Homo sapiens: one gene and its partners. The protein of the gene in region 1 interacts with the protein of each later gene in a biochemical or structural test. Each region holds a gene or a part of one and is shown on either strand. Other genes may lie near its edges.

What was found.
Region 2: the proteins of HDAC9 (region 1) and MAPK9 form a complex in vitro, tested with the Homo sapiens proteins (one study listed by BioGRID).
Region 3: the proteins of HDAC9 (region 1) and MAPK10 form a complex in vitro, tested with the Homo sapiens proteins (one study listed by BioGRID).
Region 4: the proteins of HDAC9 (region 1) and PKD1 form a complex in vitro, tested with the Homo sapiens proteins (2 studies listed by BioGRID, with this or other methods).

The regions. Positions count from the first base shown.
Region 1 is NC_000007.14:18,645,653-18,652,882, forward strand, and holds part of HDAC9 (histone deacetylase 9), read left to right. Parts: intron 1-2,132; coding exon 2,133-2,346; intron 2,347-2,813; coding exon 2,814-3,031; intron 3,032-7,230. UniProt on the Homo sapiens protein: Responsible for the deacetylation of lysine residues on the N-terminal part of the core histones (H2A, H2B, H3 and H4).
Region 2 is NC_000005.10:180,247,036-180,254,265, reverse strand, and holds part of MAPK9 (mitogen-activated protein kinase 9), read left to right. Parts: intron 1-5,127; coding exon 5,128-5,293; intron 5,294-6,339; coding exon of another isoform or gene 6,340-6,411; intron 6,412-6,537; coding exon of another isoform or gene 6,538-6,566; exon of another isoform or gene 6,567-6,603; intron 6,604-6,755; coding exon 6,756-6,827; coding exon of another isoform or gene 6,828-6,868; exon of another isoform or gene 6,869-7,230. UniProt on the Homo sapiens protein: Serine/threonine-protein kinase involved in various processes such as cell proliferation, differentiation, migration, transformation and programmed cell death.
Region 3 is NC_000004.12:86,356,879-86,364,209, reverse strand, and holds the start of MAPK10 (mitogen-activated protein kinase 10), read left to right. Parts: upstream 1-4,156; 5' UTR 4,157-4,552; intron 4,553-7,331. UniProt on the Homo sapiens protein: Serine/threonine-protein kinase involved in various processes such as neuronal proliferation, differentiation, migration and programmed cell death.
Region 4 is NC_000016.10:2,111,899-2,119,059, reverse strand, and holds part of PKD1 (polycystin-1 isoform 1 precursor), read left to right. Parts: intron 1-214; coding exon 215-384; intron 385-597; coding exon 598-1,269; intron 1,270-1,387; coding exon 1,388-1,571; intron 1,572-2,006; coding exon 2,007-2,227; intron 2,228-2,415; coding exon 2,416-2,531; intron 2,532-2,941; coding exon 2,942-3,068; intron 3,069-3,434; coding exon 3,435-3,682; intron 3,683-3,909; coding exon of another isoform or gene 3,910-4,025; intron 4,026-4,134; coding exon 4,135-4,890; intron 4,891-5,767; coding exon 5,768-5,899; exon of another isoform or gene 5,900-5,903; intron 5,904-5,994; coding exon of another isoform or gene 5,995-6,019; intron 6,020-6,096; coding exon 6,097-6,272; intron 6,273-6,586; coding exon 6,587-6,720; intron 6,721-7,161. UniProt on the Homo sapiens protein: Component of a heteromeric calcium-permeable ion channel formed by PKD1 and PKD2 that is activated by interaction between PKD1 and a Wnt family member, such as WNT3A and WNT9B. Both PKD1 and PKD2 are required for channel activity.

The DNA of each region.
Region 1 (7,230 bases):
GTGTGGGCCTTATCCAGAATAATTCATCTCTGAAATGTTAGTTAATTAAATTGTATATATACAGGGGTCATATGATACATTAGGTTTAGAGAGAAATTTATTCCAACTCTCATCACCAGTTTGGCCAATCTTTACCTTCAAGTCTTCCACTGAGTTGAATGTGTCAAGTTCACTTGTATGTTCAACACATAGTTTCAATGCGTATTTTAAAATCAACCTAAGAGATATTATATCTGGTATTGTCAATAGACTATAATGTCATTTTATGTGGTACTGTGTTCTTATACCAATGAGGAAAAAACAAAATTTGGATGTTGTCTTATATCTGGGGATTATAAAAGAAAGCATTGAAAATACAGAATTCAGCTATGCTCTTAAAATTCCACATGAAACATTTGTAAATGAAAAACAAAAAAAGGAATTAGGAATGAAACTAAAAATAAATATTCATGGATAATATTTTACAGTTATCACTAATTAAAAAATATTTTTCCTTCTCTATTTCCTGTCTCTTCTAATGATAAGTAAATACCAACCCAAAAACTTCTTATGACACATGAATAGGCATTTTATTTTTACTTATTTTTGTATGTTCTAAGCCACTCCTCTCAATAACTCACACATGGACCACTTTTAATGTGGTCAGGGAAAATTTTTTCCCAAAGGACCAAGTACTAAAGCCAGACCAGTTAATGTTTCAGAGGTAATACGATTTGGTACCATTGGATGAATAAACCAATGTGGTTTGGATTAAAGTTTCATTTTTCTTTGCTTCCATTTTGGTGTGGATGAGGCCATCACAATTAATTTTTCAAGTTTAGCATTGCTTTGCCAACGGGATTTGTAGTACTCCATTTCTACATTGAATACTGGGAAATTTTAAGGAAAAGAGGCCAGGACAAGGAATCACTTCTAGATTAAACATTGCATTGACTTACTGTGTGACTCAGACAAACCACTTACCTCTTTGTCCTTCAGTTTCTCCATTGCTGAAAATTGCTTCGCCTCCCTGGTGCACAGCAATTTTGAAAGATGAAACATGAGTTTTGAAAAGAAACATGCCACATAATTTTGAGGTATTAGAGTCCTGCTTTTGTAATAGCAAAATGACCACCATTCATTAAATCCTTTGAATAGGATAATTCATTATTGCTATTGATGATATAATTATTATTGCCTTATTACTGTGTTATCATACATTTCAAGTTCTTAATAGCATTTTTTGTAGTTTATTATACAAAATATCTAGAGTGTCATTTTCAATATTTAGAGATTTGGGTATCTGTTATGAATTAATATAAAATGTTTAAATCAAATTTCTGCATATTTTTACCTCCTTTCATTGGGTTATTTTAAGAATTTAATTTAAAAAATTAAACATTGGACACTTACAGCTCTGTGAAATTATTAGAAGCCATGTAGAGAAAGGGTAAATTGTTCCTTTTGCTTGCAACTCCAAAATTACAGTCCATCTTATCTCCAGCTTCTTAATCCCCATGATATAGTCTTTGAATAAATTTTACCTCTCCAGTATGCCTTTAACTTAAACAGTGTATAAAATATTTTAGAAATGTACTTTCCACTTATTAAGCCTGAAATAAGCATTTTTTGTTTTTTTATTGACATATAAAAGGTACATATATTTGTGGTTTACAACATAATGATTTGACATATGTATACATCGTAGAGTGACTTAAGCTAATTAACATATGCATTGTCTCACATACTTATTTTTTATGGTGAGAACACTGAAAATCTATTCTCTGAGAAATTTTCACATGTACAATATATTGTTATTAACTGTAGTCATCATCATGTACAACAGATCTCTTGAATTTATTCTTTCCACCTAAAATTGTGTATGTAGCATCACTTCTGATTTTAATTATAAAACCTTTTTATGTTCAATACAATGACAATATTAAATTGTCTTCAGTGCTCCAACCCTATTTTTATTCCTTCTTTTTTGAACTGAGTTAGTTTAAAAAGTCCATTTTCCCTGCTCAGCCATTGGGTAAGATGGGGCTTTTGTTTTGGGAAGCTACAGCATAGGAAACTTGTCTAATGATTTAGAGACCCAGTGACCCACATGGATGAAAGAGGATTAACATCTTTGTTATTTCTCAACACAGGCTTCGAATTCACTCAAAGAAAAGCAGAAGTGTGAGACGCAGACGCTTAGGCAAGGTGTTCCTCTGCCTGGGCAGTATGGAGGCAGCATCCCGGCATCTTCCAGCCACCCTCATGTTACTTTAGAGGGAAAGCCACCCAACAGCAGCCACCAGGCTCTCCTGCAGCATTTATTATTGAAAGAACAAATGCGACAGCAAAAGCTTCTTGTAGCTGGTAATTCATTATGGCACCATTTGCAGGTCATTTTAGGGTTTTATTTTATTAGTGATCCAGGATAATGTCTCTTTTACTCAAGACCCTGATGGAGATCCACAGTGCTATACAAAAGTTTCCCTGATACCTGGTACTGTGGGAAAGGCTATCATCTTTATTTATTCCTTCAGATCCACTTGGGGTAGGAGGACTCACCTCATTTAACCTTTATTCATACCAGACTAGGCTGTGGTGAGTCGTATGGTCAGATGCGTACCTGTCCAATGCCTTGACATTTCTCTCTTCCCACACCTGACCTATTCTTCTGTTGTTTGCCTGGTAGCATCACTAATTCACTAATTTTCTTACAGTTTATACCATGTATCTGTTTTCTTTGGCTTCTTATCTTTTCTTAAAATTGTGTGTGTGTGTATGTGTGTGTGTGTGTGTGTGTGTATACACACATATACATGTATTTTTTTTTTCAGGTGGAGTTCCCTTACATCCTCAGTCTCCCTTGGCAACAAAAGAGAGAATTTCACCTGGCATTAGAGGTACCCACAAATTGCCCCGTCACAGACCCCTGAACCGAACCCAGTCTGCACCTTTGCCTCAGAGCACGTTGGCTCAGCTGGTCATTCAACAGCAACACCAGCAATTCTTGGAGAAGCAGAAGCAATACCAGCAGCAGATCCACATGAACAAAGTAAGCCTCCAAGCCAAGTCAAAATGTTCTAACCGCCAGTTTGGAAATTGGGTATCTCTTCACTGATATGGGTGTCTAAGAGGAATGTTGATGGGAGTCACAGCAAAAAGGATGTGATCATCCTAAGCCTGCTTTCTTGGCTCAAGGACACCATCACAATATCAGTGTTTTAACCACCATTATGTTCATAAGACATTTGTAGCAAAATTGAGATGATACATTCACAAGATCTTTTTATGATCAGGTATATATTTTGGTACACAAGCCCATACGGGCATATGTATATGGAGCCTCATTTTTTAGTGTTGCAGAAAAAGTTTGAGGCAGACTTGAATGTGGTGTGTTGACATGTCAAAAAGTTTGTACAGGTGATGACAGATAGGCCAAGATTAGCCAGTAAGGCACTTCTCAGCAACTTGTATGCATCTACGTTACATTTATTTTGCGAATGCCCCACTTCATTCCAATAAGCGTTTGGAGTAGTTTCTCGGAAACTTGTGATCATTTCTTCCTGGAAGTCTTAATGTTGCTAAAATAGACAGCGGATGTCTGTACCGTACCACATCCTTAGGAGCTCTCCTGCTGAGGCAACTACAAAGAAACAGTGATTGCAGCATAATATCAGACAGGCCAGTAAAGGATTTTCTATGAATTCGTAAGCAAAATGATATTAAAGAACCTGGTCTGGACAGTTTTTCCACTACTTTTTGCTGTGGTAGGCTTAAAAAAGCACCATCTTCTCATTCCTGGAAAATTCCTGGAAAATATTAAGGTCCTGAGTATTAAAATTCTATTCCCTTGCCTTTGTGCTGTATCATCTACAAGTTATGTTACAGAGGCATGAGAGGCATGATATTGCAAACTGATACTTTGTTTACTGATAAATGGATAGCTAAAACCTGGCTTAGTAATAACTTTGTTGTACTATGATGTAAGAAACAAACAAAACAAAACAAAATAAACTCTCATGGGCAGAGGCTTAATCATCTTTCTAACGGCAGTAGGGGAAAGGGATCTTCATCACTTGCTGGTTTTATGGCAAGTGTTGCTGGAGTTTTTCTCTTCTTTTGGCCTCCATCGTAACAAGGGCAGAGCCATGAAGGAAGCATGGATTGGATACCATGCTTCCGAACAGAAAGTTTTCCAGCCTAGCCCTTCGCTACTCTCAAAGTAGCAAAAGTATGTGTGGGATTGGGGTGCTAGAGATGGGGTGGCTGGCAGGGACAACTCTCTCTCTAACCTTTTAGTATGCATTGCAGACCCTTTCTGTGTCATTAGATAATGCCTATTTTATTGCTGTAGCACTTCTCTAAATTTAGCAAATATTTCGGTTTCATATCAAATTATTTTATATCAAATCAGTATCTTCAGGAGAGAGCCAATTTCCTTCTCTGACTAATGGCATAATACTCACTGACTTGTATGTGACTCTGCATATGTTTTCTATATTATGGTAGAGTTAGGTTTGTTTATTTGTTTTGTGGCCTTTCAGCACAACTTAAAATTATTAGGTATTCTTGAAAAATTGTCCACTGTTTAGTGCAAGAAATGTATGTGGGAGGGAAGATTAGGGATCGTATTTTTTTGCCATATAGTGTTTTGATCTAGAATTAGGTTTGTTTATAAAACCAGTATTAGATAGTAGATAGACTTTTCTGCTATGCTTGGTTCTATTTCCTAGAAACACATGGATGTATATATTTTACTATGGTAAAGTAGGTAAATTACTCACTTTGAAATTGTGATCCACAAATGGTTTCTATGAATACCTTTAAGAATATTTTGGAATACAGTTTTTTATTAACTAATTGCCACTGTTTCAGATTCAGATGGTGTGCTAATATCAGAATCTTTCCTTTTCAGTATCAAACTCGAGATTTTGACAGGCGAATGCTAACCTCAGTCACACTGGATAAAACTCAGATGAAAAGCAGGCATTTGCATTTTAGCAATGAGAAAAGCAAATCTTATCAGAGACCTTTTCCCATGTGGAGCTGATTCCTTTGAATCTGTTAAGAATTCTTCCCAGAATTAGAAACAAACCTATACTTTTAGGTACATGTTTGTACAGTGGTTTGATTATTAAATCTTGTCTTAATTAGGCAAAATGAAGACCAGAAAACTTCAAAGTCCAAAGCTGATCTTTATATGTTAACCTCTCTCAGCTTGGGTGTTTAGATGACTCAAGCAGGTCGCCAGTTGGCTTTTCTCCAAGGATGTATTCCATATGTTTCATCAAGTTGGCATATTCACGTTGGGTATTCTCCAGATTTTGAAAATATTTTACCTGCCCTCAGTTGTCTAAGGGGACAGAGAGGAAGCTTATTAAAGAAAATATCAAACCCATGTCCTATCCTGAAATATTCACAATAGAACGCTTAAGAAGTGAGTGGCTACTGTTCACCTGCTTCCGTGACGTGACAAGGATGTTTATTTCACATTGGGTCAGATTCATAACTTAGATGCCCAAAGCTAACATGTTTCTGTATAATATATTGCTGTATACTTGATTTAACCATTTAGAATGCCCATTAGTAAGAAATCACCACAGAAATTTTATCATTTTTCCCCATTTCCATGGATGAACCTTTATGAAACCCATTCATACTGAAGCGATGGTCCTTACTCTTGAGATACTTATAGCAGGAAATACAGGCACACATGAAGATGTTGACATACAAATGACATATTTAAATATATCTTCTTTTATTTCCTTTTTATGATTCTTTTTTGAGGAATTTAGAGAAACAAAAAATGAAGTGGGAACAAGAAAATATAAGTAGGATTATTTCTAAACCTGTATCAGATTAAATATGATGGGCTTCCTGGTATAAAATTTGTAGTAATGTGTTTGAATTACTAATAATCTTTAGAAGAATTAGAAACAAAGCTATATAGTTTTAGGGGCATGGGTGATGCAAGGATTGACTTATTAAATTTGAAAGAGTTTTTCATATCTTGCTATTATTTTAATGTGTTTATAAAATATTCATGTTCAGTGTAACTACATAATGTAACTGTTATTAATCATACAAAATAATTTACCTACTTGTTGCCTTATACTTTAATATCATATTTGGGATATTTGTGGGATAGTTGTGTGTTCTAAGATTATTTGCCTCTTACAGTTACGGTGTAAGTGTTCAAGGGCTTAGCAGAAATATCCCTGGAATGGGCTTGTATAGTATTTATACTGTTATATCTGCCAGTAAATAATGGGGAAAGTCAGAAAGGAGAGTGCTGGGCTGGAGAGGAAACCCTGTGAGAATGATTTATCTCTGCTCATGAGTTTGAATATTCTATTTTTCACTGAAACTGTTTTGAGAAGTTTAATCATAAAGAAATCAAGGCTTACAACATTTGATCTTTTGTTTTCTGAGACATTTTACAAATCAGAAATGCATTAAACAGGTTCTATTGCTAATATATGGTATTAATATTTTTGTGCAATGATGTCATTGCACATTCATTTATATCATTTTTCCCCAATACCATGGAAGAACCTTTTCAAAAAATCAAGAGTTTCTTTATACCAGCATCAAGGGAAGACTGATGCTTTTGCCAGTACACCTTGCTTTTCTGATTGGAGGAAAAAAGAGTTTCTAAAGTAGAACTTCCCTCAAATACAAAATATCAAACAAAAAGTAATAAGGTATTGGTAATTTTCTCCTGGGCCCATTTCAAGTTTAAATATTACCACAGGATTTTTTTTCTGGTGAAATAAAACTGTAATTGATTAAAACAGAATACGTAACAGTTGTTTAGACATACTGATGATTTTAAAGAAGTATTCTAAGCACTGCCTAAAAAATAAAAGGGCAAATCTCTAGTCACTTCACTATTTGAATGATATATAGAAAATTTTCAAAATCTCTTTAGGCATTTTTGTTGTGAGGTAATTTGACATAGATCTCTGCCATGCCCCATCCCCTTGACAACATTATTCTTTATTTCTCTGTTATAGTATTAATAGAATTGCACTGATTCATGCCTAGCAGTTTCTATTTTAACTAGAATATTAATATCTTTATTAATATCTGTTTTTCATATTCATTCCATTAAATCCATAAGAGCAGGAATTTTAAGAAAATTCATACTTTGTTTAGTAGTTACTTTAATGAATTATTAATCTATGTATGGATGCGTTAAACAAATCATTAAATACTGTGTGCAGACACAGTTTTAAGCACTAAGAAAAC
Region 2 (7,230 bases), on another chromosome or scaffold:
GCCAAGCACGGTGGCTCATGCCAGTAATCCCAGCACTTTGGGAGACTGAGGCGGGCAGATCACCTGAGGTCAAGAGTTCGACACCAGCCTGGTCAACATGGTGAAACTCTGTCTCTACTAAAAATATAAAAATTAGCTGGGCGTGGTGGCAGGTGCCTATAATCCCAGCTAGTCAGGAGACTGAGGCAGGAGAATTTCTTGAACCCAGGAAGCGGAGGTTGCAGTGAGCTGAGATAGTGCCATTGCACTCCAGCCTGAGCAACAAGATCGAGACTTCGTCTCAAAAAAAAAAAAAAAAAAAAGAGATTGAAGCATTAAAGGCTGACTGGAAGTACTGAGTGAATGGGTAAATTGTTAAAGAATGGGTGTCTCTTGGACCACAGGCAGCCACAGGTGTCACCTTCTGTAGGTTTTTTCTCTGGGCACCATTTAATTTCTCTGGAAAAGGCCCCTTCAGTCCCTTGGTGGAGGGATGTAAGCCTGGCTGCTGGGGTACAGGGCTGTGCTTCTCATGTGGCAGAGCGCAAACTCACCAGGCAGCCCTGTTGCAGGCAGGCCTCACCGTGCCTTCCCTGTTGGTACCCACAGGACTGTGCATGCGGCGCCTGTGGCCCTGCACCTGGAAGCTGGGCATCAGTTTCTCTGCGTGAAGGGCCAGCAGGAGTGAGGAAGGAGTGGAGCCTCACTTCTGGGATGGAGATGGGGATCTGGGACATCTACTACGTACTTGGACTTTCAATAAAATGAAAACTTCTCCAAGTGCTACCCTTGCCTCTTCTGCCTCCATAGCACCTGCATTTCACTTGCTGAGCCTTTCCTGGGTGTCGTGGCCATTTATAGAGGTTGGCATTTCCTTCGCTCAGCTAGGGCATTTGGGCGGCCCTGCAGCTTCCTGTCCCTGTAGCGTGGGGCTTTTCGTGGGCGGCTTCCGCATGCCACGGTGGGTTAGACAGGCGAGGGACTGGCCGGGAGGAGGCCTGTGCGAGAAGGAAGGGGGAGCAGCCAGAGGAGGCAGCAAATGCTAGCTGAACGTAGTGCAGTCCTGGCCCCTCAGAGGCCTGGTCCAGACTGCGGTGCAGCTCTGAGGGCCTCCGGTGTCACACAGGAACGGGCCTGCCTCAGCATCCCTGCCCGGTCGGCCCCTGGCTGACGGCTCTGTGGGAGGTGTGCCCTGGCAGGGACAGAGGGTAGGTGCAGACACCACACTGGGCCATCTGTCACTCTCACTCCTGTGGCGGGAGACCAAGGAGTGCATTTCCGTGGACCCCACAGTCCACCCTGGCCCCCTCAGCTCTACTTCTCCACATAAGTTGGGAATGGCTTTCCTGTGGCGCCCATGGTTCTCTCTTCCTCAGGGGAAATCTGGAAGACAGAGGTTAGTGGGACACCCTGTAGTCCCTGTCACTGTGGTCTCTCTGCTGGCTCTTTCCCTACCCTTTCCTGTTATTCATACCCTCAGCTCTCACATTGGCAGGCCTCTGTGGCTTGCCTGGCCTGTGTCCCAGGCCTTCATTCCTGAGCCGTCTGTGTCTGGTGGCTCTCAGTGGGCCACAGGGTCCCAGGCCACCCAGTGGCCGTCTCCCCAGTCCTCAGTGTGTAGCCGGAGCGGAGGCGCTTGGCAGGTGGAGTAACGCCCACACGAGTTCCTTGGCCTGTGAGTAAGAGTCGTCACAGTGGGAAGGCCAAATGGAAACCTGAAACTGCCCCCAAGATAGTAAATCAAAAACAAGATCACACCCTGCAGGGCCCGGGGTGGGTGGAGGAGACTAGGGCCACCATGGAAGCCTCAGGGGAGCAGAGACAGTGGTATCTTGCATCCCAGTCTAACTCGTTAGTCCAGCCCTTGAAGAAGCTGCATGGATTCTGGAGAATGACCCCAGACGGCCACAGGCTTACGGCACTGGCAGTCCTGGCCGCAGCTGCTGTGCATGTCAAGGTGCAGTTGTTGCTGGAGCAGATTAATAAGGCCTCAGGTCTGGCATGTTGATGGGGCAAATGCATCCTCCACACTGATTAGAAGAGAGGCCCAGACAGCGCCCACACTGCTGCAGGCTGGACAGCAATGTTCTCTCACAGCCTTGCTCTAAGCCTTTGCTAACGTTCCCACCCTCCCATAACATGGCCGCAAGAGACCTGGCCCAGACTTCACTTATGCCCTGACCCCTGACCCCTGACCCCACGAACCCTGCAAGTGGAGGAGCCCTGAGAGTGTTTGGGGTCTTCGGGTTTCAGTGTCTACTTAGAGCTGTGTCCATTCATCCTCAAGAGTGCCTGGCTGTTCTTACCCGGTGGGTGGCCACAGGTACCTGTGGGGAAGGACCGGCAAGGCCAGACAGTGGACACCTGTCATGATGTGCTCCTTCCTGGGATACCTCTCAAGCAGTGGGTCTGGATCCCAGAGTTGAGCGGGCAGTGGGGGAGGTCAGCACCTGCCCCACTCATGCTGCGGGTGCTGTGGGTACCCTCACTGCTGCCCACAGGGTAGCGTTGGGTTCCAGGCATTTTGGGAGCCAAGCCCCGATCCAGGCGTCACTTGGATCTGTACTTGGCATTTGTCTTCTTTGTTCTGAGTGATTTTCAAGACTTGAAGGGGCAGAACTGTCTTTCCTCTGCTGTCTTGAAATTGAAGTGAGGTGTTGGGAAGCTGCCTCAGGTTGTATTTCGGGGGTGACTAGAGAGGGTCCCAGGGTGCGGGGAGAGCACCTCCTTAGCCACCTCCCCATTGGCCACACAGAGCACCCACACAAGCTTGGGACTTTATCACCACAGTCTTCCAGCAGACGGCAGTAAAGTGTGCTTTTCCTGTTAAATTAGTATGTGATGACAGTTTTTTGACAGATGGCAGTGTCTTCAGATGAGCGTGTTTCTGGCGCACTGGGGTTCACAGAGCTGGCAGGCAGCCCGTGGAGATGGTTCCACTGCTGCGTCTGTCCTTGGTAGAACCAGGCTGTCCTTGTCTTCCTTGCTCCTGCGGCCGTGCTGTTAGTTCTGGGTGGGCTGGGCTTCAGGGCCTGCTGGCTGGGGAAGTGTGTGCATTTCACACCTCAGAAATCAGCCTCCTGGAGAGAAAGTGCCCACTGCACACCCTCTGTGGCCTGAGGAAGCGCCTGTTTCTGCTTCTCCCGCCAGCACCGAGTCTGCTTGCTTTCCATCGCTGCCAAGTGATAGACTAAAAATGGGCATTCATTTTGGGTTTTTAAAGAAGATTTTTGTGAGATTGAGCATTATTTTATCTGTTAGTAATTTATGTTCTAAAATGCCTGTTCTTGTCATACTCTTTGATTTTAAAAAAGGAAACAAGAAGCGAATTCGTTCATTTGGTCTTAGCTCCCTGACTTGGTCCTCACAGCGGAGCGTCCCTGGTTGAATGTGGGCTGCTTCTCCCTGGCTTTCCTTCATGCAGGGAGGCAGCCCGGTTTCTTCCTCTCAGGCCTTTCTGGGAACCGGGGGTGTCTGCACAGTACTCTAAGGTGGAATGGAGGGGCTGGGGGCCTCTTTTTGGGGCCAGGTAGAGATTGTGACTGCATTTTTAAACATTATATGTTTATCATTTAAATCTTACAGAATCTAGGAAGCCTAGAAACAGGTCACTTAGCAGCATGGCAGTGTAATTGTACCTGTTGTCAATGTCGAAATGGCTTCCTGCTTGCCCTGATGACAGCCCCACAGCCTTCACTGAGGCATGCCGCCTGCAACCCCCCTTGTGGCCCATCAGTTGGGGTGTCTTACAGGCAGGTGCTAGGCAGTGCTACTGAACCTGCAACTTCCTGGGTAAAGTATCCTCATGCCTTACGCCATGTCAGTGGCTTGGCAGTTTGACATTGCAGGTGCACTACTCTTGTGAAAAGAATGGGTGTGGGTTGTTTACAAGTCACAGTTTCTCAAGTGAGTTTGCAGGCCGAAGTCCCCAGGCAAAAGTCAAATTCCTAAGGCCTGAGGAAGGGGCTAGGGTGGAGGATCAGCAGGAAGAAAATCCCTTAGTTATGAGGGAAAAGGTTGCAGAAGTTGTGTTAAGGCTTTGCAAGTCAGGTGGAATATGATGCATGTCTTCATTCTGCAGACACTTCCCAAGTGTCTGCTCGCGCCAGGCGTGCTTCTGAGTGCTGAGAGCTCACACAGAGTCAGCACTGGGGAGGGAAGAGAGGTGGCAACCAGAACATGAGCAGGTGAGTTTTTGTGCCACGTACAGATGGAGACAGCAGCACCAGTGCTGGCGTGTCTTTGTGGCGAAGGTGAGAAGATTGGAGGTGGATGATCATGGAATTGCTCTTCCAAGGAGAGAAAGAGCCATGGGAAGATTCCAGGATCAGACGATTCTAGACCTGTGCTGTCCAGTATGGCAGCCACTAACCACAGGAGGCTGTGGAGCACTCAGGATGTGGCCGTGCTGCAGTTGTAAAATACATACTGGACTTCAAAGGCTCAGTACTAAAAAGAGAATGTAAAATATCTCAGTATTTTTCTTATGTTGATTACATTTTGAAATGATAATATTATGGATATATTGGGTTAAAAAAATATACTGTATGATTAAAATTAATTTCACCTATTTCTGCATGCTGTTGAGCATGGCTAGTAGAAAATGTAAATTATACACATCGTTCGCATTATATGACATTGTCTGTGGGACAGCACTGCCCTGGACTGACAGACAGCATGAGGACCTTAGCAAGAGAGAGTCAGAGTATTGGGGAACTCAAGTCCAGGCGTGGAGAGCAGGAGGGGGCCGTGTGTGCTGGACTGACAGCATGAGGACCTTAGCAAGAGAGAGTCAGAGTATTGGGGAACTCAAGTCCAGGCGTGGAGAGCGGGAGGGGGGCATGTGTGCTGGACGTGTAGATGCATGGATGGAGGGTAGATAGGACAGCCTGAGGGCCTGCGAGACCACAGAAAGGGCAAATGGGGGCCATGAAGGTTTCCACTGGGGGTAAGGGGCACCATCTGACGGCTTTAGGCTGATTTGTTTTAGTTTCAATTTGAGAGTAAGATTTTCCAAAGTTGTTCCCAAATCTCAGAGTTCAGTTCACTCCCTACACTCTCACACTGGCTTCACGACCCTCACGGATGTGAAGTAGTTTATTTAGCATGCTTCATTCATTTTACTAATTTAAGCCATTTCTTTCCTAGGATTTGAAGCCTAGCAACATTGTTGTGAAATCAGACTGCACCCTGAAGATCCTTGACTTTGGCCTGGCCCGGACAGCGTGCACTAACTTCATGATGACCCCTTACGTGGTGACACGGTACTACCGGGCGCCCGAAGTCATCCTGGGTATGGGCTACAAAGAGAACGGTGAGTATAGCCGGGGCTGGAAGAGGCTGGGATGTTTAGAAATTGCTCTAGCGGTGGTCTCGAGTTTTTTCTCTTTCCTTTGAACCATATGATATATACTGTGGGGACTGTTACACCCAGAATATAGCATGATCCAGAGATAAGAAATAATTAATTGTGTTTTTCCATTGGTTAAAATCATTCTCTTTTAAAAATTCACTTTTAAAATTGTTATTTTTGAACTTTTTAATCAGAGTTAAGCTGTCTATAGCCAAGTGTGCAAATCCTGAGTGTGCAGCTCAGCTGAGGTGAGCACACCCACAGCAGCAGCAGCTCTGGCCTCCCCATGGCCCCTCCTCGCAGCCCACGAGGCTGGCCAATCTCCTGATCTCCAGTACCATGGATCAGCTTTATTTGTTGGTCTGCATATTGTTTTTTTGAATTTGATGTAAATAGAATAACACATGTTTTCATGTAAAATTGGTGTCTTTTTACATCAAAACTTAGCTTATTCTAGCAATATCAGAGCTCTTTGAAACTTGGCTTTTAGCAAATTTGTTGAAAATAACGAAATCACGCTTACTTATTTTTAAAAAGACTGAAAGTTTGCCCGGGTCATCTGAAATGAGTTTTGCTACAGGTTCATCTTGCTGCGTTGTAGCTTGTGTTCCCACCCTGAGGGGCACAGCTTCATGTGCTTCCTGTGGAGGGGAGAGAAAACTTGATCCCCTGTTCACTTCTCCCCTCGGCCCGCCAGCAGGGCACTTAGAGGCCTCTGCTGTCTGTCTGAGGCCCCACAGATGAGGGTGGGCACCGTGGAAGTCTGGGCCCCTCTAGCAGGGCCTCACCTGCAGTCCTGCAAGCCAGCCAGCCTGTGCCGCCAGTGAGTGCTGCTGCCTTTCTGACGGGGCAGTCTAGAAAATGATCGCTCAGGAGGTGTGGTATCAACAACGCACAGAGGCTCCCGCCGGCAAGCTAGTGACGTGTACCGGGTTTGTCCTGGGAGGGGGTTTGAAGAAAAAAGATGGGGGACTCTAGCTGGTTTTTAATCCCCTGGTGTTTGGTAGTGGACATCTGGTCTGTCGGGTGCATCATGGCAGAAATGGTCCTCCATAAAGTCCTGTTCCCGGGAAGAGACTGTATCCTTCACAGGGGACCCGGTACTTGGCCATGGAGGCTGGGGTGGGCGTGTGGCCCTGAAAAGCTTTGTGTTCACAGGCACTTCTTGTTTCTGGTTTTTTGTTTGTTTGTTTGTTTGTTTTAAGCTATAAAGTATTGGACTCTTTGGCACTAAAACCCCAGATTGCTACAAACCGAAGGCTAAAATAGAGGTCAGCAATCATTCATATTGTGTAAAATGTCACCCTTAGCTAGCAATTTATTTTTCCATATTTGTGTGTTTAGTGCACTGTTAGAATTCCTTTTCCTCACTTTTGTTTTGTTCATGGCACTTCATAATTTTATCATTTCATTTTATTTTCAGTTGATATCTGGTCAGTGGGTTGCATCATGGGAGAGCTGGTGAAAGGTTGTGTGATATTCCAAGGCACTGACCGTATCCTTCCCCGCGACCTTGGCCCCGCCATGCTTTCTTAATGCCTCAGGCAGCATGACCACCTGCTTACACGAGCGCTCACGAGGACAAAGTCGTAAAATCCACTCCAGACTGTGTTCTAAGGGGGGCTTTACTGTATTTGTTAATTAGTGTCACAAGCCAAGTGGTTCAATTTCATTCTTTATTTTTAACTTGACTACCTGTGATGACTTTGAGACTTAGAGTTCAGTTAAACCGATTATATTAGCTCTTAATTTTGCCAAAAATAGCTGGACACATAGAAGAAATTATTTACTCTTTGATAAGTATATTCTGATATTTAAATGAAAATACTGTATTATTTAGTTTATTCCGTTAATTTAACTAGGAAAGATGCTATCTAAATTTAATAGGCTAGTGTGCT
Region 3 (7,331 bases), on another chromosome or scaffold:
GGCTACAGTGAGCTGAGATTGCACCACTGCACTCCAGCCTGGGTGGTAGAGTGAGACCCTGTCTCAAAAACAAAACAAAACAAATCAACAACAACAACAACAACAACAACAATAAAGAGTTTCAAGCCTGGTGTGGTGGCTCATACCTGTCTGTAATCCCAGAACTTTGGGAGGCCAAGGCAAGAGGATCACATGAGTTCAGGAATTCGAGATCAGCCTATGCAACAGACTTAGACCTCATCTCTGCTAAAAATAAAAAATTAGCCAGGTGGAGTGGCAGGCACCTGTAGTCTCAGCTACTCAGGAGGCTGAGCTGGGAGGACCCCTTGAGGCCAGGAGGTCAAAGGTGCAGTGAGCTGTGATTGCACCACTGCACTCCCACCTGGGCAACAGAGTGAGACCCTGTCTCAAAAAAAAAGAGTTTTATTTAACCAAAATTTTAGTTAACTAAAATTTTAGTAAAACAAGAGGAATAAATTTTCAGATCTGTTGTACAGCAGAGTGACTATAGTCAACAATAATGTACTGTATATCTTAGAACAACTAAGAGAGTAAATTTCAAATGTCTCACTACAAAAATGATGTGAGGTCTCAGTTATGTTAATTTGATTTAATTACTCCACATTGTATACATATATCAAAATATCACAATATTCTCCATAAATATGTACAATTATAACTGCCAATAAAAATAACATTAATAAAAATAAATTTTCAAAAAGCTTAAAAAGGAAACTAACACCTAACGGATGAAAATGATTGGTATTAACCTGTTTCTGGTTGCCATTCTTTTTAATTGCTGAGTAATATTCTATTAGGCAAATGCAGTTGTCCCTCAGTACTCTCAGGGGGATTGGTTCCAGGAACAACCTCTCCATACCAAAAGCAGTGGATGCTCAAGTCCCTTATATAAAATGGCATAGTGTTCCATCCTCCTATTATTTTAAATCATCTATAAATTATTTATAATAACTAGTACAAAGTAAATGCTATGTAAGCAGTTGTTATAGTGTACTTCTATTTGTATTTATTTATCTCTGTGTGTTATCTTTTATTCTTTTTCCCCTAATATTTTTGATCTTCAGTTTTTGAATCTACAGATGTGGAACCCATGAACATGGAGGGCTGACTGTATATCATAATTATCTGCTGTCTAGTTGATATATTTGGAGTTGTTCCTGCTTTTGCTTATTATAAGCAAAGCTAGCATAAACATTTATGTCCAACTTTTTTTTGGTAGACGTAGGTTTCCATTGTCTTGGGTGAATCCTTATAAATAGGAGTGTTGAGCCATACTTTGGGTGTAGGTTTATAATTATAAAAACTACCAAAATTTCCCAAGGTAGTTTTAACATTTTGTACTCCTACCAATATATGTAGGAGAGTTCTGGTTTTCCATGTCCTTGTCAATATGTGATGATGTTAGTCTTTTTAATTTTAGTCACTTTTGTGGGCATGAAATGGTATCTCACTTTGGTTTTAATTTGTATATTTCTGCTGACTAATGATATATAATACTTTTTCATATGCTTATTGGCCATTTATAAATTTTCCTTTGTCAAATGCCTGTCAGAGTCTTTTGCCCATTAAACAAAATTGTTTGTTCATGTTTATTATTGAATTGTAGGACATGTTTTCTATAATCTAGGATTTGTGTGTATCAGAATATTTTCAGCTATCAAGAGTATTCAGATATATGTATCATCTAGACTCTGGCTTGCCTATTCATTTTCTTAATGGTGACTTAGGATAAGTGGAAGCTTTTAATTTTGATGAAGTCTCTTTTTTTTTTTTATGGTAAGTGCTTTCTGTATCCTAAGAAATCTTTGCCTACTGCAAGGTCAGAAAGCCATCTTTAAAAAAAGTTATATTATATTTTAATAGTGTTATATATTTTAGCTTTTATGTTGAGGTGTACAATTCATCTTGAATAAATATTTGTGTTCACAATGTAAGGTAAGAGATGGCGTTCCTTTTTTCCTCATTCATGTTACGTTACTGGACATTCACTTTTAAAAAATTGTTTTATTTTATTTGTAATTGACAATAATTGTATATATTTATGGGGTATAATGTGATGTTTTGATACATGTATACATTGTAGAATGATCAAATCAGGCTCATTATCTGTCACCTCAAATATTTATCATTTCTTTGTAGTAAGAACTTTTGAAATCCTCTCTTTTAGCTATTTTGAAATAGGCAACATTATTATTAACTATAGTCACTGTGCTGTGCAATAGTACACCAGAGCTTATTTCTCCTTTCTAACTGAAACTTTGTACCTATTAACCAATGTCCCCCCTTTCCCTGTCCACCTTTCCGTCCTCCAGCCACTGGTAACCACCATTCTACTTTCTAGTTTTACAAGTTTGTCCTTTTTAAAATTTCACATATAAGTGAGATTATATGGTATTTGTCTCACTGTGCCTGGCTTATTTCACTTAGCATAATGTCCTCTAGGTTCATCTATGTTGTTGCAAATGACAGAATTTCCTGTTCTTATAAGTCTGAATAGTATTCCAGCATGTGTGTGTGTGTGTGTATGTGTGTTTGTGTGTGGTATGCATAATATATATACATTCATCTGTTGATGGACACTTAAGTTGTTTCCATGGCTATTAGAATAGTGCTGCAATAAATATGGGAATGCAGACATCTCTTCGACAAACTGATTTAATTTCCATGGGATTGGGGAACTGACTTTTGATGTCCAAACTTAGTATATAATACCTCAAAAGCCAGAATGCCAATTATTTTGTGTTATAAAGTTGTTTGGCTATCAATCCATATTTTTGCATGAGGTAGTTATCTTGCAGGTAGGCCCATTGAGAAGACTAGAAGATAGTCTTGATTGATTCTTGTTGAAATTGAAATTAGAGTAAAGGGACATCCAAACACTTATCCAATGAACTACAATGACATACAACTCACTCAAGCCTTCCTTTTTCTAAATTTTCTCCCCAAATAAAACAACAGCAGCAACAACAAAGACAACAAAAACGTATGCGTTTCTTACAGCTTTATGATGTGTTTCAGTGTCTACAGTACTGCTGAGTTTGCATCTCTTGCATGTTGTATCTTTCTGGTAACATATGGAAGAAGCTTCATATTCATATAAGTATGCTAGTTCTAAAACATAATGTGGAATCATTTACAACTCAGCACTACTTGGTAGCAATAAACAGAAACCCACCTCAAAAGAGTGTAAGCAAAAAAGGAATTGAATTAGATTACGTAATTTGAGAAGTCCAAAGGCTGGAGTTGGTTTAAGCGAAATTTGTATTGAAAATTTTTCTTACATAAAAAAGGTAAAACAAATTTGGTAAACCTAATTTTTTTTTATAGTGCAAGTAGTCAACTGTTGTCATTCTAAGAAACTATTATTTATGGATAGTAAAACTGTTTGGAGACTTTAAAAATACCCTATAACAGTTAAAGGCAGAGCAAATTACTGAAATAAAATTGCGATATTTGCCCCAAATAGTAACAGTACAATTTTCATCAGTTCTCTAGAAAATTATCTGCAATTAAAAAAAAAAGAATTCTGATGTGTTAACTCAAATTAATCAGTATTTTCTTTGTACACTCAGATTGCAACCTAAGTATTAGTCTGTTGAATTTGGTTTAGTGGATATTTATTCAGGATTTTTACAAAAACAAGGAAACAGAGAAGAGGAATAGTGCTGTGCAGATGACCTCGGGGTTCAGGCGACACTCAAATGCCTGCTTCTCCTCTGAGGTTATTACCATCTCTTACTTGTTTGACGTTTAGAGATACTACAAGAGATAGTTGAAAAGCAGAGGTTGCATTTCCAGTGGTGTTTTGCTCTGCTGGTATTTGCTCCTCCGTGCTGCTGTGCAAAGGGCCAGAACTGCATCGAATGGATCTTTTCTTCAGGTTGTGCAGGCTGGCTGCCTTGATGTCGTAGTTGCTGATGTTGGCTGCCGACGAACCTTATTCCTTTACATTTGCCTGGTCCTCATTTCACCGGAAAACACAGTAGCTGTAGCTGCACATAGACGCTTCCTCTTTCTGTTTCCCCCTCATCCCCCTCCCTAGACCTCTCTGGGCTTTGACGTCATGTGTGCTCCTTTCGGTTGCCATAGCAACCCCATTCCCCAAGCCCTCTGTCCGTCTCCTCTGGTAGGTTCCACAATGGTACAGGCAGCATCACGCTGCACAATGGTTTCCAGGCAGTGAAAGAGGGTGATTCAGCAAGCCACTCTTCTTCTATTTTCTTTAACCTCCCCTTCACTTTTTATTTTTATGGGGGTGGGTGGTGCTTGCTATATGCTTACCTTTTTCTTTTCTTTTTTCATTTTTACAAATTTCCTTTTTTGTCCTCACCCCTCAATTCCTAGGGGCTTGAGTGAGTTTAAGATTGGGTTTTCTTGGAAATCACCTGTCCATCGTTAATTTTAAACAATCTCCATATCTCCAAAGAATCTCTTCCATGTTAGTCTGGAATGTGGTTAATGAAAAACAAGTAGGGAGGATTTCTGGGGCAAACACTGCCGGATCAGGATCGTAGTTCTCAGGCACGGAATGGTAGGTGGCTCTTTGCTCGTTCTGGGTTCTAACCTGTTTTTGGAGGGTGGGGTGATGTCTATTGATTGCTCCTGGTGGGGCGGGAGAGGGAGTATGGAAGAGACGAGAGAGGTGGGGTGGAAAGCAGGTTAATCAAGTGAACTAGCTTTGAAGCAAGAAGCTACCAGTTTTTCCCTCTGTGCAGAACATCTCTTTCCAGACTTGGGCGTGTTGAAACCTTTCCATTTGGAGTGAGGGGTAGCAGAGGGAGGGAGGGAGCATTCTTATTGTGACCAGGGGTTTTTAGACCAATGCAGGGCTACAGAAGGGAAGGGAGAGAGAGAGAAACACACACACACACACACACACACACACACACACACACACACAGAGAGAGAGAGAGAGAGAGAGAGAGGAAAAAAAAAACACCAAACAGCTGTGCTTGTTAGAAGTGCTGACCTTAGTTCCATATCTGAAAAATGTGATGGGTTCCATAAAACATTAAAAATAATGTCTTTTAGTATGTATTTATGTTTACTTTTGTGAGAAGTATAATTTAAATATTTTAAGATGTATTTTACTAAGGAACAGTATTTATATATATATTAGATATAAAACTATTGGCGTTACTCTTGCAGAGCAACTCTAGGCTAAATCTGAGCCGGGGAGAGGAACACAGAACAGGGGTCAGGTTAGAGATAAGAGGAAACATTGGCACTGCAGTCAAATAGGTAAGGGGTCCCTTTAAGAAAGTGATCTCCTAGTCACAGCAGTCAGCTTTCTTTTTTTCATGGCAAGATTCCCAGGTATTCTGTGCTGGGATACTGTGTCCCCTGCAAATGTCAGAGCTCTTTTGAAAAAAAAATCAGAAATAAGTATGGCAGTATATTTGTTAGAATCTATGTATTTGTGCCTTCAACAAAATAAATGTAATTTACTGGAAAATCTGTAAGTAAATCAGGCTATAGATATTACAAGAAAACTATCTATCCATATATTTTTCTCACCCTCCCCAAACATTTAAATCTAGAGACCTAGTCTCTGCTTTTACCCCCTTAAACAGATAACTTCCCAGGGTACTGCAATTTAGCCACAGAAAAAGAATGGCTTATGCCACAGCAGTAGGCTCTGAAGCAATCACAAGGTTGTTTACATGGGCTGCCTTTGGTGCAGAGCCTGACAGTGTCTGTACAGCAGCCCTGCCTGCTTCTGGCCATGTTGATGATAACTTTTATGAACAAACTGCAAGGAAGCAGGCTAAGTCATATGGGATAGACTACAGTTCAGGTGGAAGGAAAACGAGTGTAAGTGCACCAGGCATTGCCAGCACAACATCCAATATCTCCTTCTATCCCTCATCGGCTAGTTGTCGGACCCTGGAAGATAACACAGAATGCTTATCAACATATTTAAAATAGTTGCAGTAAGGACCATTTCTCTCAGAGAAGCTTCTGTGAATTTTCTACTTTAGGTGAGCATATATGTTACAAATATATAACAAATAAATATATAAGTATATCACAAGCTTCTGACTCCACTTCAGAACCATTAGATTTTAGGGGCTGGATGCTTTGGATGTAGCGGTTTGGCTGCCTCTGGTATGTATTTCCTTCTCTACCTTGATCACACTCTTAAAATTGACATAAAGTATTGGATTAGCTTATTTTCTTATGTGGAGCAAACTGGGTTTTCTCTCCCCTACAATGGGACTAGAAAATCAGATGACAAAGGTGGTGTGACCTTAAATATTAGAGAGTCTTCATGCTTCCTCATTTGCCTGTCATTCCTCTGCTGTTGCAAAGTGTCTTTAATTTGAGGGGCTCCTGTTCTTAAAAAATCCTCACAGTTTCAGTAAAACGATTCTGGATAGTGAGGCAGTAAGAAATTATATGTAGAGTGGGAAAATCAGCTGCCTCCAGCTTCCTGCCTGCTAGCCCCAGAACAGCATCTGCTGTTGAGAGGAGTGTGTTTGCCATGCTGGAAGGGGATGTTTATGAACAGATCCCAGAGGGGCTGAGTGTGTTTTTGCTGTCATTGTCTGGTATGTCTGCAGCTATTAGTATTTAATGGTTTCATAGTACATGGTCTATATATTCTAAGGTTAGAATGAACTGATAATTTATTGTCAATGCTATAAAATGTAGATATTTTAAATTTATAGGAAAATTAATAAGATTTTCCTTGTTAGGATATCCTACAGGAACATCATAAGCAAAACAAATTTGCCCAACCTAAGTAATCTAGAAAAACCTCCCATGTTTAAAGGCATAAATATATTTTTAAGGTTTTATTGTGGTTTCATGTAAATGAATCTGTTTCTTTGGATGTAAGCCTAGTTATAAATTCTTTTTATACTGATACTAAAAGCTAAAGACAAATTGGGTATTTACTTGTTTGTTAAATATGGGGATAGATGTTCTCCCTTCATGCTCTAGTTCTGGCCTCAGGTCACATTTGTAGCCAAAGGACTTTCAGTGGAATTGGTGTGTTCAAATCGAATGATTGCTTGGTTGCTTATCAGAATAAAGGACTCAAAGCAAGAGAGACTTCCTTCAATTAGAATGAGAAGCAAACACATTGTTGTCTTAAATTCTTTCTTCATTGCCCTTTCTATTTCCTCTTACAGTCTCTTTTAAGCTTTTGGTTGGACATTGCAACAATCATGCAGAAAGAGGCACGGAAGTGTCCAGTAGTGACAAGAATGGAGTACAATGCTCTATTTGCTGCAGGACTGCTGAGTGCCTTCCTCCTACCACACATGCATCTATTATTGCACCTTCTTCTGAGGACCAAGGACTTG
Region 4 (7,161 bases), on another chromosome or scaffold:
CCTTCTGCCCTCCCAGTTGGTCCGTGTCCCCTTCCAGGCTTGAGACCAGATCCTGGGGGCAGTTCACTGCCTGCTTGGAGCCCCCCAGTGCCGGCTTGGTTGGGGCAGGGGAGGCGGTGCTGTCAGGGTGGCTCCAGGGCCTGGTTGCCAGTGGGGGGCTGGCATAGACCCTTCCCACCAGACCTGGTCCCCAACACCTGCCCCTGCCCTGCAGAAACCTGAGTGGGAACCCGTTTGAGTGTGACTGTGGCCTGGCGTGGCTGCCGCGATGGGCGGAGGAGCAGCAGGTGCGGGTGGTGCAGCCCGAGGCAGCCACGTGTGCTGGGCCTGGCTCCCTGGCTGGCCAGCCTCTGCTTGGCATCCCCTTGCTGGACAGTGGCTGTGGTGAGTGCCGGTGGGTGGGGCCAGCTCTGTCCTTCCCAGCCAGGTGGGACCTGGGCCCTGCAGACACTGGGCAGGGCTCAGGAAGGCCTCTCTGGGGGGGGCCTCCGGGCCAAGGGAACAGCATGGGAGCCTGTGAGTGCGGCGGGCGGATGTGGGGGCGTGGGGTGGAGCCAGGAGGAGCAGAACCCGGGGTCCAGTGGCTGCCTCTTCTAGGTGAGGAGTATGTCGCCTGCCTCCCTGACAACAGCTCAGGCACCGTGGCAGCAGTGTCCTTTTCAGCTGCCCACGAAGGCCTGCTTCAGCCAGAGGCCTGCAGCGCCTTCTGCTTCTCCACCGGCCAGGGCCTCGCAGCCCTCTCGGAGCAGGGCTGGTGCCTGTGTGGGGCGGCCCAGCCCTCCAGTGCCTCCTTTGCCTGCCTGTCCCTCTGCTCCGGCCCCCCGCCACCTCCTGCCCCCACCTGTAGGGGCCCCACCCTCCTCCAGCACGTCTTCCCTGCCTCCCCAGGGGCCACCCTGGTGGGGCCCCACGGACCTCTGGCCTCTGGCCAGCTAGCAGCCTTCCACATCGCTGCCCCGCTCCCTGTCACTGCCACACGCTGGGACTTCGGAGACGGCTCCGCCGAGGTGGATGCCGCTGGGCCGGCTGCCTCGCATCGCTATGTGCTGCCTGGGCGCTATCACGTGACGGCCGTGCTGGCCCTGGGGGCCGGCTCAGCCCTGCTGGGGACAGACGTGCAGGTGGAAGCGGCACCTGCCGCCCTGGAGCTCGTGTGCCCGTCCTCGGTGCAGAGTGACGAGAGCCTCGACCTCAGCATCCAGAACCGCGGTGGTTCAGGCCTGGAGGCCGCCTACAGCATCGTGGCCCTGGGCGAGGAGCCGGCCCGAGGTGAGTGTCTGCTGCCCACTCCCCTTCCTCCCCAGGGCCATCCAGATGGGGCAGAGCCTGGTACCCCCGTCTTGGGCCCACACTGACCGTTGACACCCTCGTTCCCACCGGTCTCCAGCGGTGCACCCGCTCTGCCCCTCGGACACGGAGATCTTCCCTGGCAACGGGCACTGCTACCGCCTGGTGGTGGAGAAGGCGGCCTGGCTGCAGGCGCAGGAGCAGTGTCAGGCCTGGGCCGGGGCCGCCCTGGCAATGGTGGACAGTCCCGCCGTGCAGCGCTTCCTGGTCTCCCGGGTCACCAGGTGCCTGCCCCCACCCCCCGAGGGGCCATAGGTTGGGAGATCTCTGAAGCACTGGGGCAGAGCCTGCGGCTGGGGAGTCTCAGGAGGAAGGAGGTGGGAGCTGGGCCGGCCCTGGTGAGCAGGTGGCGCCGGCCGGTGGGGCCGTTCCTGTCAGCTCTGCAGATGCAGAGGTGGACATGAGCTGGGGGCAGCCTCCGGACACTCCTGGGCACGCCATACGGGAGGTGGCCTGCACGGGGATCCCTGCCGGTACCCACAGGCCCCGTGGGTGGGTGCTGCTGTGAGCCTGGGCTGGTGGGCCCTGGTCTCCGGGCTCTGAGCCTCAGTTTCCCCATCTGGAAAGGGGGACAGTGATGGGGCTCCCAGCGGGCTGCTGTGAGGGTGGGAGGATGGAGGAGTGCCCTGAGCCCCCTGCCATCCCACACCCGCCCCCAGGAGCCTAGACGTGTGGATCGGCTTCTCGACTGTGCAGGGGGTGGAGGTGGGCCCAGCGCCGCAGGGCGAGGCCTTCAGCCTGGAGAGCTGCCAGAACTGGCTGCCCGGGGAGCCACACCCAGCCACAGCCGAGCACTGCGTCCGGCTCGGGCCCACCGGGTGGTGTAACACCGACCTGTGCTCAGCGCCGCACAGCTACGTCTGCGAGCTGCAGCCCGGAGGTGTGCGGGGGGCCAGGCAGGGGCCTGAGACGCTGGCTGTGGTTAGGGGCCTGCCGAGCGCCCGCGGTGGAGCCTGGGCTGAGGAGGAGGGGCTGGTGGGGGGGTTTTCGGGCGGCTCGGTCCCCAGTCTGTTCGTCCTGGTGTCCTGGGCCCTGGCCCGGCGCCTCACTGTGCACTCGCCACCCCAGGCCCAGTGCAGGATGCCGAGAACCTCCTCGTGGGAGCGCCCAGTGGGGACCTGCAGGGACCCCTGACGCCTCTGGCACAGCAGGACGGCCTCTCAGCCCCGCACGAGCCCGTGGAGGTAGTCGGCCCCCCACGTTCTACAACCTGCCCTCCTGCCTGCCCCTGGAGGCCTTGCCTGCCCTGCCCACTGTGGGTCTCGCCAAAAAACTTGGGGGCCTTAATGTTGCTTGTGCCCAGTGAAGATGGTTGGGAAAATCCAGAGTGCAGAGAGGAAAGCGTTTACTCACATTACCTCCAGGCCTTTTCTCTGAGCGTGTGTGAGTTATTCCTGAAAGGCAGGTCAGGGGTCCTGCCCCCCATGGACAGTTTCCACCGGAGTCTTCCTCTCGAGCGACAGGAGCCAGGCCTGTGGGGGTCTGATGGCTCGCTCTCCTTCCCTCCCCTCTTCCTGGGAAGTTCGGGTAGGGGGAGTCTGGGCTTCAGGCTGGGATGGGGTCTGTGGAGCTGAGGCGGCCCCCTGCCCACCAGGTCATGGTATTCCCGGGCCTGCGTCTGAGCCGTGAAGCCTTCCTCACCACGGCCGAATTTGGGACCCAGGAGCTCCGGCGGCCCGCCCAGCTGCGGCTGCAGGTGTACCGGCTCCTCAGCACAGCAGGTGGGACTCTGGGTGGTGGGTGGTGGGTGGTGGGCGCCGCAGGACTCGGGGTGGCCTCTCTGAGCTTTCACGTCTGCTGGTCCTGTGGCCACCAGAGTGGTTCCCAGTCTTAGGTGGACAGAGCAGGGGTTCCAGAGACACCAGCTCATTCCAGGTGTCCTGGGGGTGGATTGGGTGGGGCCTGCCTGGGGGCCGGCCTGGGTCAGTCGGCTGGCCGGAGACGGACGCAGCACTGGGCTGGGAGTGCTGCCCAGGTGGGGAGACCTGTCCTCACAGCAAGGCCAGGATTGCTGGTGCAGGCAGTTGGGCATCTCTGACGGTGGCCTGTGGGCAAATCAGGGCCCCAACACCCTCCCCTCCTCACAGGGACCCCGGAGAACGGCAGCGAGCCTGAGAGCAGGTCCCCGGACAACAGGACCCAGCTGGCCCCCGCGTGCATGCCAGGGGGACGCTGGTGCCCTGGAGCCAACATCTGCTTGCCGCTGGACGCCTCCTGCCACCCCCAGGCCTGCGCCAATGGCTGCACGTCAGGGCCAGGGCTACCCGGGGCCCCCTATGCGCTATGGAGAGAGTTCCTCTTCTCCGTTCCCGCGGGGCCCCCCGCGCAGTACTCGGTGTGTGGCCCTGACCTGGGTCTGTTCCCTGCATCTCCTCAGGCCACCTTCCTGTCTGCTGCCCAGGGTCTGGGTCTGTGCACCAGACACACCCAGCCTGCAGGCCCCTCCCACGTCCTTGCCACCTCTGACCTCCGACCTCTGCAGTGCCCTCGGCCCTCTCCCAGTGGGAGAAGCTCTCGCCTGGGCCCTTGGCACGAGCTGTGCCTCCTCTTCCTCTCTCCCAGCACAGCTGCTCCTTCCTGTCTGCCAGGTCTTGGCCTGTGTCCTCTCCCCGTGTGTCCCCCGGTCTGCAACTGTCCTGCCTGTCCTTGTCACGAGCACTGTGGGGAGGCTCCTTGAGGTGTGGCTGACGAAGCGGGGAGCCCTGCGTGTCCACCCTCATCCGTCGTGCGGGGGTCCACGGGCCATGACCGTGAGGACGTGATGCAGCCCTGCCTCCCTCTCCACAGGTCACCCTCCACGGCCAGGATGTCCTCATGCTCCCTGGTGACCTCGTTGGCTTGCAGCACGACGCTGGCCCTGGCGCCCTCCTGCACTGCTCGCCGGCTCCCGGCCACCCTGGTCCCCGGGCCCCGTACCTCTCCGCCAACGCCTCGTCATGGCTGCCCCACTTGCCAGCCCAGCTGGAGGGCACTTGGGCCTGCCCTGCCTGTGCCCTGCGGCTGCTTGCAGCCACGGAACAGCTCACCGTGCTGCTGGGCTTGAGGCCCAACCCTGGACTGCGGCTGCCTGGGCGCTATGAGGTCCGGGCAGAGGTGGGCAATGGCGTGTCCAGGCACAACCTCTCCTGCAGCTTTGACGTGGTCTCCCCAGTGGCTGGGCTGCGGGTCATCTACCCTGCCCCCCGCGACGGCCGCCTCTACGTGCCCACCAACGGCTCAGCCTTGGTGCTCCAGGTGGACTCTGGTGCCAACGCCACGGCCACGGCTCGCTGGCCTGGGGGCAGTGTCAGCGCCCGCTTTGAGAATGTCTGCCCTGCCCTGGTGGCCACCTTCGTGCCCGGCTGCCCCTGGGAGACCAACGATACCCTGTTCTCAGTGGTAGCACTGCCGTGGCTCAGTGAGGGGGAGCACGTGGTGGACGTGGTGGTGGAAAACAGCGCCAGCCGGGCCAACCTCAGCCTGCGGGTGACGGCGGAGGAGCCCATCTGTGGCCTCCGCGCCACGCCCAGCCCCGAGGCCCGTGTACTGCAGGGAGTCCTAGTGGTGAGTATGGCCGAGGCTCCACCACCAGCCCCCAGGCAGGTGCCTGCAGACAGGGTGCTCACACAGGGCGTGAGGCCTGGCTTCCCAGTGAGGGCAGCAGCCCAGTTACTGGGGACGTCGGCCCCGGGCAGGTCCTGCTGGCTGGCTCCTCGGGCTACCTGGTGGGCTTTAAATTCCTGGAAAGTCACGGCTCTGACAGTGGCTCCGCTAACTCATTCCACTGTCTCATTTCACAAAATGAATTTAAAACTCTGCTCCCTGACCTCACACGAGCCCCCGTGAGTCTCTCACGCCCTCTGCTGTGTTCTCGCCTGGCTAAAGCGAGTGGCTTTTGAGGTGGAGTCTGAACCCCTGATGGGAAACTGCGGGCTGCCCGCGGTGCCACCATGCTGGGTACATGGGGGACAGGGCTGTCTCCATCTTGCGGGTACCTGCCTCTTCACCAGGGGCCTTGGGAGGGGCCATCAGAAATGGCGTGACCTGTGCAGCCTGTCCTGGGTTCTGTAAGCCAGTGTAGGTGCCTCCCCTCACTGCTCCGAGCTCTCTGGGTGAGGAGCTGGGGCAAGAGCGCCGGGAGGGTCTGAGAAGACTCAGAGAGAGGTGGACTCTTTGTAGCTGGTACTAGGTTTGCTTTACAGATGGGGAAACTGAGGCACAGAGAGGTTGAGGCATTAGTAGTACTACATGGCTGGCTGGAGAGCCGGACAGTGAGTGTCCCAGCCCGGGCTTGGCTCCCATGGCATGCAGAGCCCCGGGCACCTCCTCTCCTCTGTGCCCCGCGTGGGACTCTCCAGCCCGACGGGAGGTGTGTCCAGGAGGCGACAGGCTAAGGGCAGAGTCCTCCACAGAGCCCAGGCTGACACCATTCCCCCCGCAGAGGTACAGCCCCGTGGTGGAGGCCGGCTCGGACATGGTCTTCCGGTGGACCATCAACGACAAGCAGTCCCTGACCTTCCAGAACGTGGTCTTCAATGTCATTTATCAGAGCGCGGCGGTCTTCAAGCTCTCAGTAGGTGGGCGGGGGTGGGGAGGGGAGGGGATGGGGCGGGGCAGGGCGGGGGCGGGCTCCACCTTCACCTCTGCCTTCTGCTCTGCTTCATGCTGCCCGAGGACGCTGCCATGGCTGTGGGTGAGTGGAGGGAGGGACGCCAATCAGGGCCAGGCCTCTCACCTGCCACCTGGGCTCACTGACGCCTGTCCCTGCAGCTGACGGCCTCCAACCACGTGAGCAACGTCACCGTGAACTACAACGTAACCGTGGAGCGGATGAACAGGATGCAGGGTCTGCAGGTCTCCACAGTGCCGGCCGTGCTGTCCCCCAATGCCACGCTAGCACTGACGGCGGGCGTGCTGGTGGACTCGGCCGTGGAGGTGGCCTTCCTGTGAGTGACTCGGGGGCCGGTTTGGGGTGGGCACCAGGCTCTTGTCCCAGCCCCAGCCTCAGCCGAGGGACCCCCACATCACGGGGTTGCTTTTCTGAGCCTCGGTTTCCCTGTCTGTTGGGAGGTAACTGGGTGCACAGGAGCCCTGAGGCTGCACGGGAGCCGGGAGAGGCCTCAGCACAGCCGGGTGGGCCCTGAATGGAGGCCCGGGGCGTGACTGCAGAGTGGAGCCTCGGCTGGGTCCCAAGCACCCCCTGCCCCGCCACCGCCCACCCCTGTCCCGGTTCACTCACTGCGTCCCACCGCCCCGGCAGGTGGACCTTTGGGGATGGGGAGCAGGCCCTCCACCAGTTCCAGCCTCCGTACAACGAGTCCTTCCCGGTTCCAGACCCCTCGGTGGCCCAGGTGCTGGTGGAGCACAATGTCATGCACACCTACGCTGCCCCAGGTGAGGGATGAGGGGGTGAGGGGGCCACTGCCTTTCAGGCTCTGAGCACGGGGTCCCCCCAGCTCCCCAGTCAAGCTGCCCCCCTTCCTCCCCAACAGCCCTCACTGTGACCTCACCTGGGCTGATGGCTTAGGCCCCTACTGGGGTGAGGGAGGGGCCAGGCGTGGGGGGAGTGGACAGGGAAGCTGGGCCCCTGAACTGCGCCCCCCGCCCTCCCCGGGCCTGGCTCTTGCTGCTCTGCTGCCCCGAGTGCAGCTGCACTTGGAGGCGGTGCCGTCCTCGCCAGGCAGCCCTCAGTGCTGCTACACCTGTGCTCCGTCCCGCACGTGGCTTGGGAGCCTGGGACCCTTAAGGCTGGGCCGCAGGTGCAGCCGTTCACCCCGGGCTCCTCAGGCGGGGGGCTTCTGCCGAGCGGGTGGGGAGCAGGTGGGGGTGCCGCGG